3 separate regions of the Homo sapiens genome follow, and all the other regions are linked to region 1. Evidence: fine-mapped expression QTL. A gene starts in region 1. Each other region holds a variant in brackets. All regions are shown on one strand. Distances are from middle to middle.

Region 1 (5,224 bases):
AAAGAAAGTGCCCAGAGAAACCAGAGCTGTGGAAGGCTGGCTCGACGGTGCCCCTCACTGCCCCTGAGAAAACAGACCCATTTCCTCTCTGCCCACCTCTTTCCCTGACATGTCCCCAGCAGCAGTCCTGTATTCCCAGTTCCTCTCAAGATGTTCTGAATAGTCTCTGGGTATCCTCTCATTGCCTTCAACTCAAGATATCTAAAACCAAAACTCATTGTCTTCCCACTCAAAACGTCCTCCCCTTTCTGCTGCCAACCCCAGTCAGTATTGTCTGCAGGCTTCCAGGCTTGGATCCTTGACTCACGGCCACCCAAGCTTCCTTCCCCCGTGTGCGATTAGTCAGTAAGTCTTAGTAGTGATGAGGGCTTCCTGCACCGTGACTGTCCGGCATGCTTTTTCCTCTCCCATTTCCTCAGCCACCAGCAATTCCAGGCCCCTCTTTACTTCGTATGTATTCTAGCGAGATCAACTGGCAAGACAAAGCTCAGACGTCACCTCCAGAAGGTTTTCATGGCTTGTGATAATCTGGCTTCACCTGTATTCTACTTCATGAGACAACTGACTATCTCGTGGCCTCTTCCCTGTGGCCTCCATCTCTCTTTGCAGCTCCAGTCCCTGGCACATGCTTGGCACACAGCTCACTGCAGCTGCTCAATGAGTTTTGTGGACTGGATGTTTGCTTGTGGGAAGTGGAAGCAGGGACCAGATGGATGGGCAGAAGGATTGTCCTATTCAAATATGCACTGGTGGTCCTGTCTTGTGTTTGGGCACCAGTTGAATCCAAGAGCTCTCAACCTGTGGAGTGTCGGATGAAATCTATGGAATCCCTCCTCAGAAAAGCAAATGAACCCACACAATGATGGCGCAGTTTCATTGTCATCAGCCTCCTGAGGCGTATCCACAATCACCAGGTCAGAAAACCCTGCTCCTTCCTTGCATTCAATTGGGCACATCACTATCAAATTAATTTTTCTGAAACACGACAAAATCTCATCAGAAATATACCACACTTTGTTGTCCCAAATGCTTGCCACCAGAAGTGTTTTGTATTTCAGATTTTTTGGATTTTGGAATCTTTGCATTATACTTACCAGTTTGGCATCCCTAATCCAAAACTCTGAAGTCAGATTAGCGATATTAAACCTGTACTAAGGAGAGCAATTCTGAATTTTTTGGCTTGGCAGCCACGGTTATTTTTGTGCCCCTCTAAATATACCTACTACCTACTATCCCCAGTGTGTAATCAGGCCATTGATGCCAGAGAGAGGTGTGAGTAGAATGATCACCAGTAGTGCCTGCCCTGAGAACGTGGCCACTGGTGCCCAGAGCAGAGTTGTCTGGGGACTGGCTGGAGGCCCATAGAGAGGCCCACACAAGAGCTCACCTGTGTTGACCAGCTCTCTTGCGTGCTCCAATTCCTATGCTGTTGCCTTGACTCAGCATGTGGTTCTCAGTGGGGTGATTCTTCCCTGCAGGTGACAAGTACTAATGTCTGCACACATTTACAACTAGGGAGGGAGTGCCACTGGCATTGAGTGGGTGGAGGCCAGGGATGCTGCTGAGCTTCCTGCATTGTACAGGACAGCCCCCACCACAAAGAACTTTCTGGCCCCAAGTGTGCATAGAAAAGATCCTGGTCTGCAGAGCCCTGTCCACCCATGGTCAATCCTGAAACTCTCCTTTGAGTCCCCCAGACTTTCCTGGGCCCTCCGGTCTTGCAGGATCTTCTCTTTCTTTCACACCTGTCCTTCCTGGGCAACATTTCTCCCCGACAAACCAGCGCCTGACCCTTGAGCAGGTCTCACCCAATCCTGCGCTTGTTTTAACCATATCCTTAGTTAGGTTCTAAGGTCATTGCGGGCAGGGAGGTTCATTTTCCTATAGGCCTGAGCACAAGGTCAGCGTGTGATAAATATGTGTTGACCCTCATAGATCCCTGAAGCACAGAATGAAAAATAAAATTGCTTAAATTTACTGATTTCAGGATATGGGAACAAAGGAATTGTGTTTAAATGTAAAAAAGAAGTTCTAGAATTTCCACAGAATTTACATTCTTCTTGTTGTAAGGAATATGCCTGGTAATGGAACTCAAATATCAGCTTGGATCGCCCTGGCCTTTGAAATTTGAGGTAAAATTAGGCTTAAGCCGTATCCAGCGCACAACAGAAACCTCAGTGTCTCCCACCCAGGGACTGTCTCGGAGGCTGTGTGTTCAGATGTCACTTCTGCCTCCCGGCATCTGCTCCTGAGTTTTCACTCTTCAGCCTCCCCTCCCAAGGCCTCCTTCCTACCCTGGCACTGGGCTTCTTGCCCCGTCCCCCTAGAATCCGTGGCACAGGGGCTTTATCTGTGTGGAGTCTCTACAGACGGTTAGAAACACAGAGTCAGCTAGAAATTAAGCAGTAGGCAGCTGTGATGTTTTTTGACAGCCTCATTTCTAAAACCCCTTCAGCAACCCCAGTCAAGGAGCTTCTCCCTCTAGACTCCAGCCTCCTGCTGAGTCACCTGCACCGTCTCTGCCTTCCTCCCCTTCCTCACATCCTCCCTGGCCCCATCTTCCAATTCCTCTGAACTTCTGCAGAGCAGCCAGCTCTTCCTCCAGCTTCAACTTCCCCACCCCAAGCAGGTGGGGCATCCTGACCCTGAGCAAAAGCAGTTCTCTCCCTAAGAAACACCGGTGACTTTTGTTCATGGCACTCCATGGATGCAAAGCTCTGAGTTCTGTTGAACAGGGACTCACCTACGAGTGGTGGTGCTATCAGCTGAGACGGGAAGCAGCACTCAGTAGAAGAAGAAAAGGCCTGGACTGGTGTGGGCATGCACTGGCTCGTGAGAAGCAGGGAAGGTCGCTCTTATGGGTCCCGTTTCTAAGTGACGTTCACGGCCTGGCTGTGTGTTGTCCAAGTGTTTTTCTTTCTTACCAAACCTTGGAGGTCTGGGAGCACCATATATGTCACACATGTGGGCAGGACTGGCCGTCGGGGCCGATGGGAGCTGCCTGGCGCACAAGTCCCTGGGGATGCCCATAAGTGCCTCACGTTGGCACTGAAGAAATGCAGACAGTGTGCCGCTTTGGGGAAGGCTTGTTGTTGCTGACTTTACACACACACACATATATATATACATACACACACACATATATACACATATATATGTATGTATACAGAGTGCTATAAAGTTATTCTTATTTTGTGAGTGATACAACCTTATTATTTAAAAATTAGGAAGAAAGTTAAAAAGAGGGTAAAACTCATATCTCTTCATGAGAAATGATCACTGTGACTATTTCAGCATACTTCCTCTGGCTCTGAGAAGAATCTTTAGGAAATAAGGAGCTTTTCATCTCCAGGGAGATGCCAGGGTCAGTTTCACCCCAAGGCAAAACCCTTCTCATTTTATGGGGCCAGATGCTGAAGATCAGAAACAGTTCGATCCTGCCCCGAGAAGGTGTCCGCCTCATCCTTGGAGTTAATGTGGCCACTTCCTAGGCAACTCAGAGGCTTTATGGGTCCTTTCGCCTCTTAAAATTAATTGAGTTATTCAGTAAATACAGGTTAAGCATCCCTAATCCAAAAATACAAAATGCTCCAAAACTGTTTTAGTACCAAAACGACCCTTAAAGAAGGCACTCACTGGAGCGTTTTGGATGTTGGATATCAGATTAGGGATGCTCAGCCAGAATGAATTCTGCAAATATTCCAAAATCAAAAAAAATTTGAAATCTGAAACACTTCTGGTTCCAAGTATTTCAAATAAGGGACACTCAACCTGCACTTAGTGAGTGATGCCAGGGAGTGGTACCAGTCACTGTTCTAGGCACTGAGGGTGCGTTGGAGACAAAGTGACAGCAACGTCCATGCTTCTTCCTCGCAGAGGACAGAGCCATGAGGAGGGAGAGTCTCTTCACTTCTCTGGGCCTTAGTTTCCTCCCCAGGCAAATAAACTGAGGAGGCTGTACCCAAATAAACATCGTCAGAGCTTAGGGGAATCATGTGGAGTGCCTGTTTGTCTTAAACACAAGCATTTCTTTAAGGTTCCTTAAAAAAAAAAAAGAAAAGAAAAGCTAAAAATGTTAATGACCTCTGCATTTTATTTTCTGGTATGTCCAGGTTTTTTGTTTTTGTTTTTAGACAGAGTTTTGTTCTGTCGCTCAGGCTGGACAGATCACGCAGTGGCATGATTTTGGCTCACTGCAACCTCCACCTCCCGGATTAAGTGATTCTCCTGCCTCAGCCTCCTGAGTACCTGAGATTACAGGCACCCACCATCACAGTCAGCTAATTTTTGTATTTTCAGTAGAGATGGGGTTTCACCATGTTGCCCAGGCTGGTCTTGAACTCCTGACCTCAAATGATCTACCCGCCTCAGCATCCCAAAGTGCTGGGATTACAGGCATGAGCCACTGCTCCTGGCCATATGTCCAGGTATTTTTAAATATAAAAACAAAATTTGGCCAGGTGCAGTGGCTCATGCTTGTAATCTCAGCACTTTGTGAGGCTAAGGTAGGCAGATCACCTGAGGCCAGGAGTTCGAGACCAGCCTGGGCAACATGGTGAAACCCCGTCTCTACTGAAAATACAAAAATTAGCCAGGCCTGATGGCCCATGCTTTTAATCCCAGCTACTCGGGAGGCTGAGGCAGGAGAATCACTTGAACCCAGTAGGCGGAGGTTGCAGTGAGCCGAGATCACACCACTGCACTCCAGCCTGGGCAACAGAACAAGACTTCATCTCAAAAAACAAACAAACAAACAAACAAAATAAACCCCACAAAATTTAAAATTCTTTGTAGAGTAGAAATGATGCTCTGGGAAAATACCCCCTGGGCAGGTGGTGGCTGCACATCCACTCTGGGAAAGACTCTTCAGCTCGAAGATGGAGACCCTCTTTTCCTGCTCTCACACAACATGGGGATAACGTTGACGCGTTCTTGGTAGGCAGTGCAGTAGGCAACATATCCAGACGCTGGGTGCCAGTGGTAGGCAGGAGAAACCACCGAGTGGGAGCAGATTTTCAGAAAAGGGAAACTAGAAAAAAACTTCCCAGCTGTGTCTCAGACAGGCCCTGTGGTCTGAGCTCCCATCCTTGACAAATGAGATTACTGAATGCGTGTTTAGCAGTTCCAAACGCTATTCATGATCCGACGTGACCCTCTAGTCTCTCAGACAGAGCGCAGCCCTGTTGCACAGGTGTGGAAATGGAAGCAAACAGGGAAGGTAACT
Region 2 (5,224 bases), 63 kb before region 1:
TCGGCCTCCCACAGTGCTGAGATTACAGGCATGAGCCACCACGCCCTGCTAGGAGTTCACGCTTTAGTTGGGGAAAATATACAATAAGCAAGCCAATTTTTAAAAAGAGAACTGCAATTAGAGTTAAATGCTACAAAGACAATCTCACAGGAAGATGGGATGTAGAATGATAAGGCTCTCAGAATAGTAAGAGAAACTATTGCTTCTTACGATGTTTGTCTTTCTTTGTATCAGTGCTCAGCTGAGTCTGCAGTGCTTCAGAGGCAGCTTTCATTTTATAAAAATCTATGATTTCTCCTTCCAGTTGTTTTTTCTCTTCCTCAAGCTTCCTTATCTCCTCCTGTTGAATCATTTTAAGATGCTCGAATTTGTCCTGCAGCTGTGAAACCAATGTGCAGTTGTGACACCAAAGCAGTGTGGCTGAACACCCAAAAGAATATGCTTTTTTCTGATTATCAAACAAACCCAAATCATCACAGTAGAGCACGATCTTAATAACAATCTCAAAAACTCAGGAGTAAACACTCAGATATGGAATTTTTCTTTTCTTTCTTTTTTCCTTTTATAAGATGGAGTCTCACTCTGTTGCCCAGGCTGGAGTGCACTGGTGCAATCTCAGCTCGCTGCAACCTCCATCTCCCAGTTCAAGTGATTCTCCTGCCTCAGCCTCTTGAGTAGCTGGGACTACAGGCATGCACCACCACTACAGGTGTGTGCCACCACACCTGGCTAATTTTTGTATTTTTAGTAGAGATGCGGTTTTGCCATGTTGGCCAGGCTGGTCTCGAACTCCTGACCTCAGGTGATCCTCCCGCTTTGGCCTCCCAAAGACTTTTTTTTTTTTTTTAATATACAGACAAGTTCTCAGTATGTTGCCCAGGCTGGTCTCAAACTCCTGAGCTCAAGTGATCCTCCCACCTCAGCTTCCCAAAGTGCTGGGACTGACTGGATGCAGTGGCTCATGCTTGTAAACTCAGCACTTTGGGAGGCCAAGGTGGGAGGATCGCTTGAGCCCAGGAGTTCAAGACCAGACTGGGTGATATAACACAATAGTAAACTTCAACAGGAGAGAGAATCTGTAAACTTGAATATAGATCTTCTGAAATTATCCAGTCAGAGGACAAAGAAAAAAAGAATAAAAAAGAGAAAAGAAGGCTGGGCGTGGTGGCTCAAGCCTGTAATCCCAACACTTTGGGAGGCCGAGGCAGGCAGATTAAGAGGTCAGAAGTTCAAGACCAGCCTGGCCAACATGACAAAACCCCATCTCTACTAAAAATACAAAAATTAGCCGGGTGTGGTGGCACACACCTGTAGTCCCAGCTACTTGGGAGGCTGAGGCAGGAGAATCACTTGAACCCAGGAGGCGGAGGTTGGAGTGCAATGTGAGCCGAGACCACACATTGCACTCCAGCCTGGGTGACAGAGCATGACTCTGTCTCAAAAAAAAAAAAAAAAAAAAAAAGAGACAGAGAAAAGAAAGCCAACAAGACACCATTAGGCAAACCATTGTCAGGTTATGGGAGTTTGAGAAGGAAAGTAGAGAAAGGAGAAGAAAGCTTATTTAAAGAATGGCTGAAAACTGCCTAAATCATGGGAAAGATTTAGACATCTAAATCCATGAAGCTTAAAGATTCCTAAAGAGGTTCAAACCAAATAGATACTCACCAAGTCACAATATAATCAAATAGTCAAAAGTTAAAGAAACTTTGCAGGTCAGGACAGAATCGAATAATACATTCAAAGTGCTGAAAGAAAAAAACTGCCAGCAACTAATACTATGTCTGACAAAGCTGTCCTTCAGAAAGAAAAAAGAAATAACGTGTTTCCTCGACAAACAAAGCTGAGGGCATTCAGGACCACTAGGTCTACCTTAAAAAAATGCTTAACGGAGTTTTTCAAGTAAAAAGGAATGAAGTTGGGAGCGGTGGCTCATGCCTGTAATCCCATTTTGGGAGGCTGAGGTGGGTGGATCACCTGAGGTCGGGAGGTCAAGACCAGCCTGGCCAACATGGCAAAACCCCACCTCCAGTAAAAATACAAAAAATTAGCCAGGTATGAAGGCCACTGAGATCGTGCCACTGCACTCCAGCCTGGGTGACAAGAGTCAAACTACATTTCAAAAACAAAAAACAAAACAAACAAAAAAAACAAAACTTGAGGCCTGGCCTTCTGCTCCTCTCCAACCTCCCCTTCTCTGGGCCCAAGCCACCTTGGCTGAGGAGGGGGCGAGGAGGTGTGAGCCCCTGCCAGGAACCCCCTGCCCGGACCAAGTACTCGGCCCCCAGGCCTGCGTTCAGTGAGGCCTCCCGTGGCGTCAGCATGTTCGTGTGGAGGAATGTGGAAGGTCACTCTGCGGCTGTGTTCCCCTGGTACTCCATCCCCTTCCTGACCCCTCCCTGCAGCCACACGAGGCCCAGCAACCTGCCAGTCACTCAGTGGCCTGCAACCAGAGAAAACAACCTGCCAAGTTGCCAGCTGTTGCTCATGAGCGTCCACCAGGTGGGACAGGGAGTGTTGACCCTGGGCGGCCCCCTGGAGCCACCTGCCCTGAAAGCCCAGGGCCCGCAACCCCACACACTTTGGGGGTGGTGGAACCTGGTAAAAGCTCACCTCCCACCATGGAGGAGGAGCCCTGGGCCCCTCAGGGGAGTCCCTGCTGGACAGTGAGACAGAGAATGACCATGATGATGCTTTCCTCTCCATCATGTCTCCTGACACCCAGTTGCCTCTACCACTCAGATGATGTCAGGCCCAGTCCCTCAGTGCCCTGCGCAAGGAACAGGACTCATCTTCTGAGAAGGATGGACGCAGCCCCAACAAATGGGACAAGGACCACATC[T/C]GGTGGCCCATGAGTGGCGCTCATGATCTTCAGCAAGCGGCACCAGGCCCTGGCGGGGCGCACCAGGGTCACCCCAACCAGGATAACCGGACCGTCAGCCAGATGCTGAGCGAGCGGTGGTACACCCTGGGGCCCAGTGAGATGCAGAAATACGACCTGGCCTTCCAGGTGAAGGTGGCCCACTTGCAACAAGGACCGAAAGAAGTCCAGCTCAGAGGCCAAGCCCACAAGCCAGGGGCTAGCAGCAGTGTAACAAGGGCTCGTGGGAGCGGAGCATATCAGAGACGGGCACTGCCACTGCCCCTGGGGCGTCCTCTGAACTCCTGTCAGTTGCAGCCCAAACACTCCAGAGCTCGGATGCCAAGGAGCAGCTTCTGTGGGGCAGAACGGCTGCACACAGTCAGGGAACCTGGCTCAGCCTGGCCCAAGCCTTCTCCCACAGCGGGGTACACAGCCTGGACGGCAGGGAAATAGACCGTCAGGCACTACGGGAACTGACACAGGTGGTGTCTGGCACTGCATCATACTCTGGCCCAAAGCCTTCTACTCAGCATGGAGCTCCAGGCCACTTTGCAGCCCCTGGTGAGGGAGGTGACCCGTGGGCAGCCCTGCTGCTGCCCACCTGAGCTGCTCATTCCCAGCACATGGCCAGTGAGGACACAGCGAGTGACGAGGAGCACACGGTCATCCATGAGGAGGAGGGGGTGATGATGTCATTGCTGATGATGGCTTTAGCACCACCGACACCGATCTCAAGTTCAAGGAGTGGGTGACCGACTGAGAGTGGGGACAGCTCTGGGGAGGAGCCAGAGGGCAACAAGGGCTTTGGTGGGAAGGTATTTGCACCTGTCATTCCTTCCTCCTTTACTCCTGCCGCCCCTTGCTGGATCCTGAGCCCCCAGCGTCCCCCGATCCACCTGCAGCTTTTGGCAGTCTATGGTCACACCCTGTCCTCCTCCTACACATACTCGGATGCTTCCTCCTCAACCTTGGCGCCCACCTCCTTCTTACTGGGCCCAGGAGCCTTCAAAGCCCAGGAGTCTGGTCAACGCAGCAGAGCGGGCCCCCTACGGCCCCAACCCCTGGGGATGGGGGCCCAGGGACGCCTTCCAAGGTGGCCTGTTTCCTCCCAATGGATCCTGCCACCTTCTGGTGCAAGAGACCTGAAAGTGTGGGCGACCTGGAGCTACCAGGCTCCTCAGTCATCAGGGTCCCTCCCAACACTAAGGCTTTCCTAGGCAGGAGCTGGGCTGAGCCACCCGGGGAGCAGAGCCTGAAGAGAAACTGACTGGGCTTTAGGGGTCGGGGCAGAGGGAACCCCACGGACATGGATCCCACACTGGAGGACCCCACCACGCCCAAATGCAAGATGAGAAGATGTTCCAGCTGCAGTCCAAAGCCCAACACCCCCAAGTGTGCCATGTGTGATGGGGACAGCTTCCCCTTTGCCTGTACAGGTGGAGAAGCCGAGGACAGGCTCAGGGAACCGGAGACCGAGAAGGAGCTGTCCTCTTCACTGCACGTGCCCTGGACCAGTGCCGGCCCTGATCATGCAGCTCTTCCAGGCCCACTGCTTCTTCCTGTCCACTAGGCCACAGCCGCCCTCCAGGCCCACTATGCACACATCTTCCCCTCCAAGGTTTGTTCTGCCCCTGCCCTGACTCCCAGCCCTGTGGGGGTCCTGACCGCACCTCACCTGGCTCAGACTCTTGACGCTGCCCTGGCTGCCCCACCACTGCCTCTGCCCGAGAGTCACGTGAGGCTGAGAGTAGGGGCAGGGGCAGCAGTGGTGCCAGTTGGGGGGCGGTCCAGTGGGAGGAGCCTCAGCCTCGCGGGCTGCTCCGTGGGACTGATGACTGCATGATCTTCTGGGCACCTCACGGATCTTCAACTGCAGGTGAAACGGATGCTGGTGGTGGGTGCAGGGCCGCTGGGAGCTGCTGCATGGTTCCCAGAGGCTGGACTGGGGCAGGTGCCAACTGAAGCTGCTGGGTCAGCATGGGCAGGATGTTCTGCACACAAACCTTGGAGAAGAAGATGTGTGCATAGCGGGTCCACTGCTGCTGCCCCTGCCCTGACTCCCAGCCCTGCCTGACCCCACCTCAACCTGCTCAGGCTCTGGCACAAACCTGGCTGCCCTGCCACTGCCTCTGCCCCAGAGTTGGGGCCTTGACAGCCTGGTTGGAAGGGGACACCCCAGCCCTGCCTCAACACCTGGGGGTCTCCATAACTACCACAGGCAGGTGGGCAACCCCAAAGATCCCAGGACTCACAGTACCCCCTGAGAACATGGACAGTATGTGGGGGTAGCAATGGAGGGCAGGATGGTTATCTTCTCCCAGGTGAAGCCATTTAATCCTTTCAGTTTGGGACGGAGTAAGGCCT
Region 3 (5,224 bases), 34 kb before region 1:
ATGTCTTCCTGTAGACTGAAAAAACTATACAGAAAAGTTTGTCTCAAAGCGCCCTCTAGTGATAATACTAAAAATCACAATCAGGAAAGTTAAGTTACTAAATGCCAGGACGTGCCCAGAATAGTAGTAGTTTGGGCACTTTGAGTTTAGATTGTGACCTACTAAAAAACAAATTAAATTCATTAATATTTCCATTTAGAAGAATTCTGAAAAGTAATTTTACAGCAAGATCACTTTATTGACCATAAAGCTTCAAAAATGCTAAAAGACTAATAGACTAGGTTAACTACGTAAGATTTTTCAGGGGAAAAGGCCATACAAAAGTTAAAAAAAAAATGAGGGAAGAGACAGAAACTGTCCTTGACTAACATTTTAAATGTAAGTTTATTTACTAGCATTATTTTCAAAAATTATACTATCAGGATAGCTTTCACTTCCTACTAATCTCATGAAGTTGTCTCACTAAAAATTATGCTTTCATGGCAAATTAATGAACTTGATTGATTTTCTACAAGTGTATGTTTTGACTTATTTCTTTAAATTTTTTGACATGGATTTGTTAGCTTTTAATGTTATTGCAAAGACTTCCTTATATTCTTCTAATTCCGTAGTAAGCTCTTCATAAGCGGTTTTCATTTTGGAGAATTGACATTCCACGTCTTTCAGTCAGAGTTCTCTTTTATTCATCAAAGCCATATTATTCTCTTTTAACTGCTGTGTTTTTCATATTCTGCTTGTTTCTAAAACAAATAAAAAATCATACTTTTAAAACAATTATAACCTAATTAGTCTCTATTTGTTGCCTTTCATTTTGAGTCAGTGATTCAGAAAGCAATTTTAAATATGTGTTTTAAAAAGGGGCTGAAGTTTAAAACATCTATTAGCAATTTCATCTAAATTGATAACAGAATTCAGAATTAAATATGAATTATAAAAATTTGAAATCATTCTTGTTAGTGTTCATGTAATCTAATCATTTAAAAATAATAGAATCCATTGGAAATGTTAAAAACTGAACAATGTAGCGTAAGACCAATTCAAAAGTACCATATAATTTTAAATCAGAGTTTTCTTTTTCTAATAGTCTTATGCTAACTGGTTTTAATAACCAAATGACTGTATAGTGAAACTCACTACTCTGAAAGATCAACTTAGTTATAATCATGATGGAAATTTAAATATTTAAAATAAGAAACAGGTGCCACCTTTTTTTCTAAAACTCTACAAAGCAAATTCCTATAAGAGAGGCAGACAAAACACTGTATGTCTATATTATAATTTGCAGTGAAATAAATGAAAGCACATTACAGATAAACCTACCTGATTAAAAAAACTAACCTGTAAATTGATTTCTTCTAATTTTTCTATTTCCTGTCCTGCTCTTTCTTCCAACTGCAATTTACATTCTTCTACGTCACCAAATTCTACCATATTTTTTTCATGTGTCTTAAGATTCACTACTTCTTGTTCCAAAATTTTGTTAACCTCCTCAAGTTTTTTACATTTCTGTTGTACTTCTTTCATAGATAATAACTCCTGTTGAATAACTTGATTCTTTTTAGCCAAATATAGACATTTTTGAAGATATAGTTTCCAGCTCTGCTGTAAGTTCATCAAACTGCATAAATAAAATAGTACAGCTTGATAATGAAGTAGGCTGACACTATTTTATTATAAAACCAGTAACAAATTTTGAAATACATTTACTTGCAATAAAATGTTATCTATAATGCGGTAGATTCTTCCAACGTGAACGCTTAAATTACTCAGAAAATCAAGAACAAAGTTAAAGCCACCAAGAGTCAAAAAGATATATTAGTTACTTTTATCATCTTTGCCACAGAACTTTTGCACTTGATCTTACACTTTTATTTTTCTGATTGCTTATTTTTGTTCCTCCCTAAATGACTCTAAGTTATTTCTTAGTAGAAAGTTTCTAATCTCCTTCCTTCATGATCATGCCCAATAATTTCTAAAGAAGTTTTAGGGACATCATATTGAGTTATTTAGGCCAAGGTCAATAAATGGCTCTCAGAATAAGACTCTGAAAATAATAATCTAGGCCAGGTGTGGTGGCTCATGCCTGCAATCCCAGCACTTTGGGAGGCTGCAGCAGAACGATCACTTGAGGCCAGGAGTTTGTGACCAGCCAGAGCAACATAGTGAGACCCCCATCTTTACAAAAAGTTAAAAGCAATTAGTTAAAAACAATTACAATTAGTTAAAAACAATGACAAAAAGTTAAAAACAATTAGCCAGACATGGTGGCGCATTCCTGTAGTTTCAGCTGGTTGGGAGACTGAGGCAGGAGGATGGCTTGAACCCAGAGTTCAAGGCTGCAGTGAGCCATGACCACACCACTGCACTCCTTCCTGACTGACAGAGAAAGATCATATCTCAAAAAAAGACAAATTAATGCGTCCTGTAAATAAGGAGTATGATATGGTTTGGCTGTATCCCAACTCAAATCCCATTATGAATTGTATCTCCCATAATTCCCACATGTTGTGGGAGGGACCTGGTGGGACATAATTGAATCCAGGGAGTGGTTTCCCCCGTACTGGGCTTGTGGTAGTGAATATATCTCACAAGATCTGATGATTTTACAAGGGGTTTCCCCTTTCACTTGGCACTCCTTTCTCTCTTGTCCGCCACCATGTAAGACATGCCTTTCCCCTTCTGCCATGACTCTGAGGCCTCCCCAGCCATGTGGAACTGTGAGTTCATTAAACCTCTTTTTCTTTATCAATTACCCAGTCTCAGGTATGTCTTTATCAGCAGCATGAAAATGGACTAACACAGTAAGTTGGTACCAGTAGGGTGGTGTGCTGCCGTAAAGATACCCAAAAATGTGGAACTGGGTAATAGGCAGCAGTTGAGACAGTTTGGAGGGCTCAGAAGAAGACAGAAAAATGTGGGAAAGTTTGGAACTTCCTAGGGACTTGTTGAATGCCTTTGACCAAACTGCTGATAATGATATGGACAATAAAATTCAGGCTGAGATGGTCTCAGATAGAGATGAGGAACTC[A/G]TTGGGAACTACTGTAAAAGTGATTCTTGCTATGTTTTAGCAAAGAGAGTGGTGGCATTTCGCCCCTGCCCTAGAGATATGTAGAACTTTGAACTTGAGGGAGATGACTTAGGGTATTTAGTGGAAGAAATTTCTAAGCAGCAAAGCATTCAAGAGGTGACTTGGGTGCTGTTAAAAGCATTCAGTTTTAAAAGGGAAACAGAACATAAAAGTTCAGAAAATTTGCACCCCGATAATGTGATAGAAAAGATTTTTTTCTGAGGAGAAAGTCAAGCCTGCTGCAGAAATATTCATACATAACAAGGGGCCAAATATTAATCACCAAGACAATGGGAAAAATGTCTCCAGGGCATGTAAGAGAACTTTGGGCAGCCCCTTCCCATCACAGCCCTGAAGGCCTGGAAGGAAAAAATGGTTTTGTAGGTATCCAGGCCCCCACTGCTGTGTGCAGCCCAAGGACTTGGTGCCCTGCATCCCAGCCACTCTAGATATGGTTAACAGGGGCCAAGGTACAGTTCAGGCTGTGGCTTCAGAGGTTACAAGCCCCAAGGCTTGGCAGCCTCCACATGGTGGTGAGCCTGTGGTTGCACAGAAGTTAAGAATTGAGGTTTGGGAACCTTCACCTAGATTTCGGAGGATGTATAAAAATGCCTGGATGTCCAGGCAAAAGTTTGCTGCAGAGGCAGGGCCCTCATGGAGAACCTCAGCTAAGGCAGTGTGGAAGGGAACTGTGAGGTTTAAGCCCCCACACTGAGTCCCCACCTGGGGCACTGCCTAGTGGAGCTGTGAGAAGAGGGCCACCATCCTCCAGACCCCAAAATGCTAGATCCACCAACAGCTTACACCATGCACCTGGAAAAGCCACAGACACTCAACACCAGCCCATAAAAGCAGCCAGGAGGGAGGCTGTACACTGCAAAGCCACAGGGGCAGAGCTGCCCAAGACCATGAGAATCCACCTCTTGCATCAGCATAACCTGGATGTGAGACATGGAGTCAAAGACAATCATTTTGGAGCTTTAAGATTTGCCTGTTAAGCTGGATTTTGGACTTGCATGGGGCCTTTAGTCCTTTCATTTTGGCCAATTTCTCCCATTTGGAATGAATGTATTCATCCAACGCCTGTACCCCCAATGTATTTAGGAAGTAACAAACTTGCCTTTGATTTTACAGGCTCACAGGCAGAAGGGACTTGCCTTGTCTCAGATGAGTCCACAAACTGTGGACTTTTGAGTTAATGCTGAAATGAGTTAAGATTTTGGGGGACTGTTGGGAATGCATGATTGGTTTTGAAATGTGGGGATATGAGATTTGGAAGAGGATGGGGCAGAATGATATGGTTTGGCTTTGTCCCCACCCAAATCTTATCTTGAATTGTAGCTCCCATAATTCCCACATGTTGTGGGAGGAACCCCGTGGGAGATAATTGAATCATGGGGGTGGCTTTCCCCATACTATTCTTGTGTCAGTAAGTTTCATGAAATCTGATGAGTTTATAAGGGGTTTTCCCTTTCACTTGGCGCTCCTTTCTCTCTTGTCTGCTGCCACATAAGACATGCCTTTCACCTTCTGCCATGATTGTGAGGCCTCCCCAGCCACATGGAACTGTGAGTTCATTAAACCTTCTCTTCTTTATCAGTTACCCAGTCTCAGGTATGACTTTATCAGCAGTATGAAAATGGACTAATACAGATTATGAGGATTCTAATGCCATTAGCTTTTCCCTAAACTTCAAATGTTTTATGCTAATTTGAATTGCATTTCAAGAAGTAATGATTCTTTGGGTCAAGGCCATAGAAAACAGAACCCAGAAATAAATCCACGTATTTACAGGCAACTGATTTTGGACAAAGGTGCCAATAACATACGTTGGGGAAAGGACACCCTCTTCAATAAATGGCACTGGAAAAACTGGATAGCCAATGGAGAAGAATAAAACCAGACACCATATACCAAAATAAACTCACAATGGATTAAGGTCTTAAATGTAAGGCCCCAAACTATCAAACTACTAGAAGAAAACATAGGAGAATGCCTCAGGACATTAGTCTGCACCAAGATTTTATGTGTAAGACATCAAAAGCAAAGGCAAAAAGCAAATAATAGACCACTAATATCCAGAATGTACAAGGAACTCAATGTGACAGTAAAAAAAAAAAGGGTAAAAGATCTAAATAGACTTTTAAAAAAGACAT

Direction of the effects. Positions count from the first base shown, and alleles are read on the strand shown. Sizes are in standard deviations (SD) of each study's normalised expression. Not every link is listed here.
In carriers of allele T in region 2, the expression in prefrontal cortex of the gene that starts at base 1,985 in region 1 tends to be lower than with C alone (large effect, 0.75 SD a copy in BrainSeq).

What was found. PIP is the estimated chance that this variant, and not a neighbour inherited with it, causes the effect.
Region 2: its variant is the best candidate, but not a certain one, in a credible set for the expression of LINC03066 in prefrontal cortex (BrainSeq, PIP 0.85).
Region 3: its variant is the best candidate, but not a certain one, in a credible set for the expression of LINC03066 in testis (GTEx, PIP 0.66).

The regions. Positions count from the first base shown.
Region 1 is chr6:203,500-208,723 of GRCh38, forward strand. It overlaps LINC03066 (long intergenic non-protein coding RNA 3066), which reads right to left and starts at 1,985. Exons shown (of 8, transcript NR_126020.1): 1 at 1,388-1,985.
Region 2 is chr6:140,001-145,224 of GRCh38, forward strand. It overlaps the pseudogene SEPTIN14P6 and the pseudogene CICP18. Among named protein-coding and RNA genes, the nearest start is that of LIRIL2R, 38 kb to the right of the region's middle. The variant T/C (reference allele first, on the strand shown) is at 2,840.
Region 3 is chr6:169,014-174,237 of GRCh38, forward strand. It overlaps the pseudogene ANKRD18FP. Among named protein-coding and RNA genes, the nearest start is that of LIRIL2R, 8.8 kb to the right of the region's middle. The variant A/G (reference allele first, on the strand shown) is at 3,030.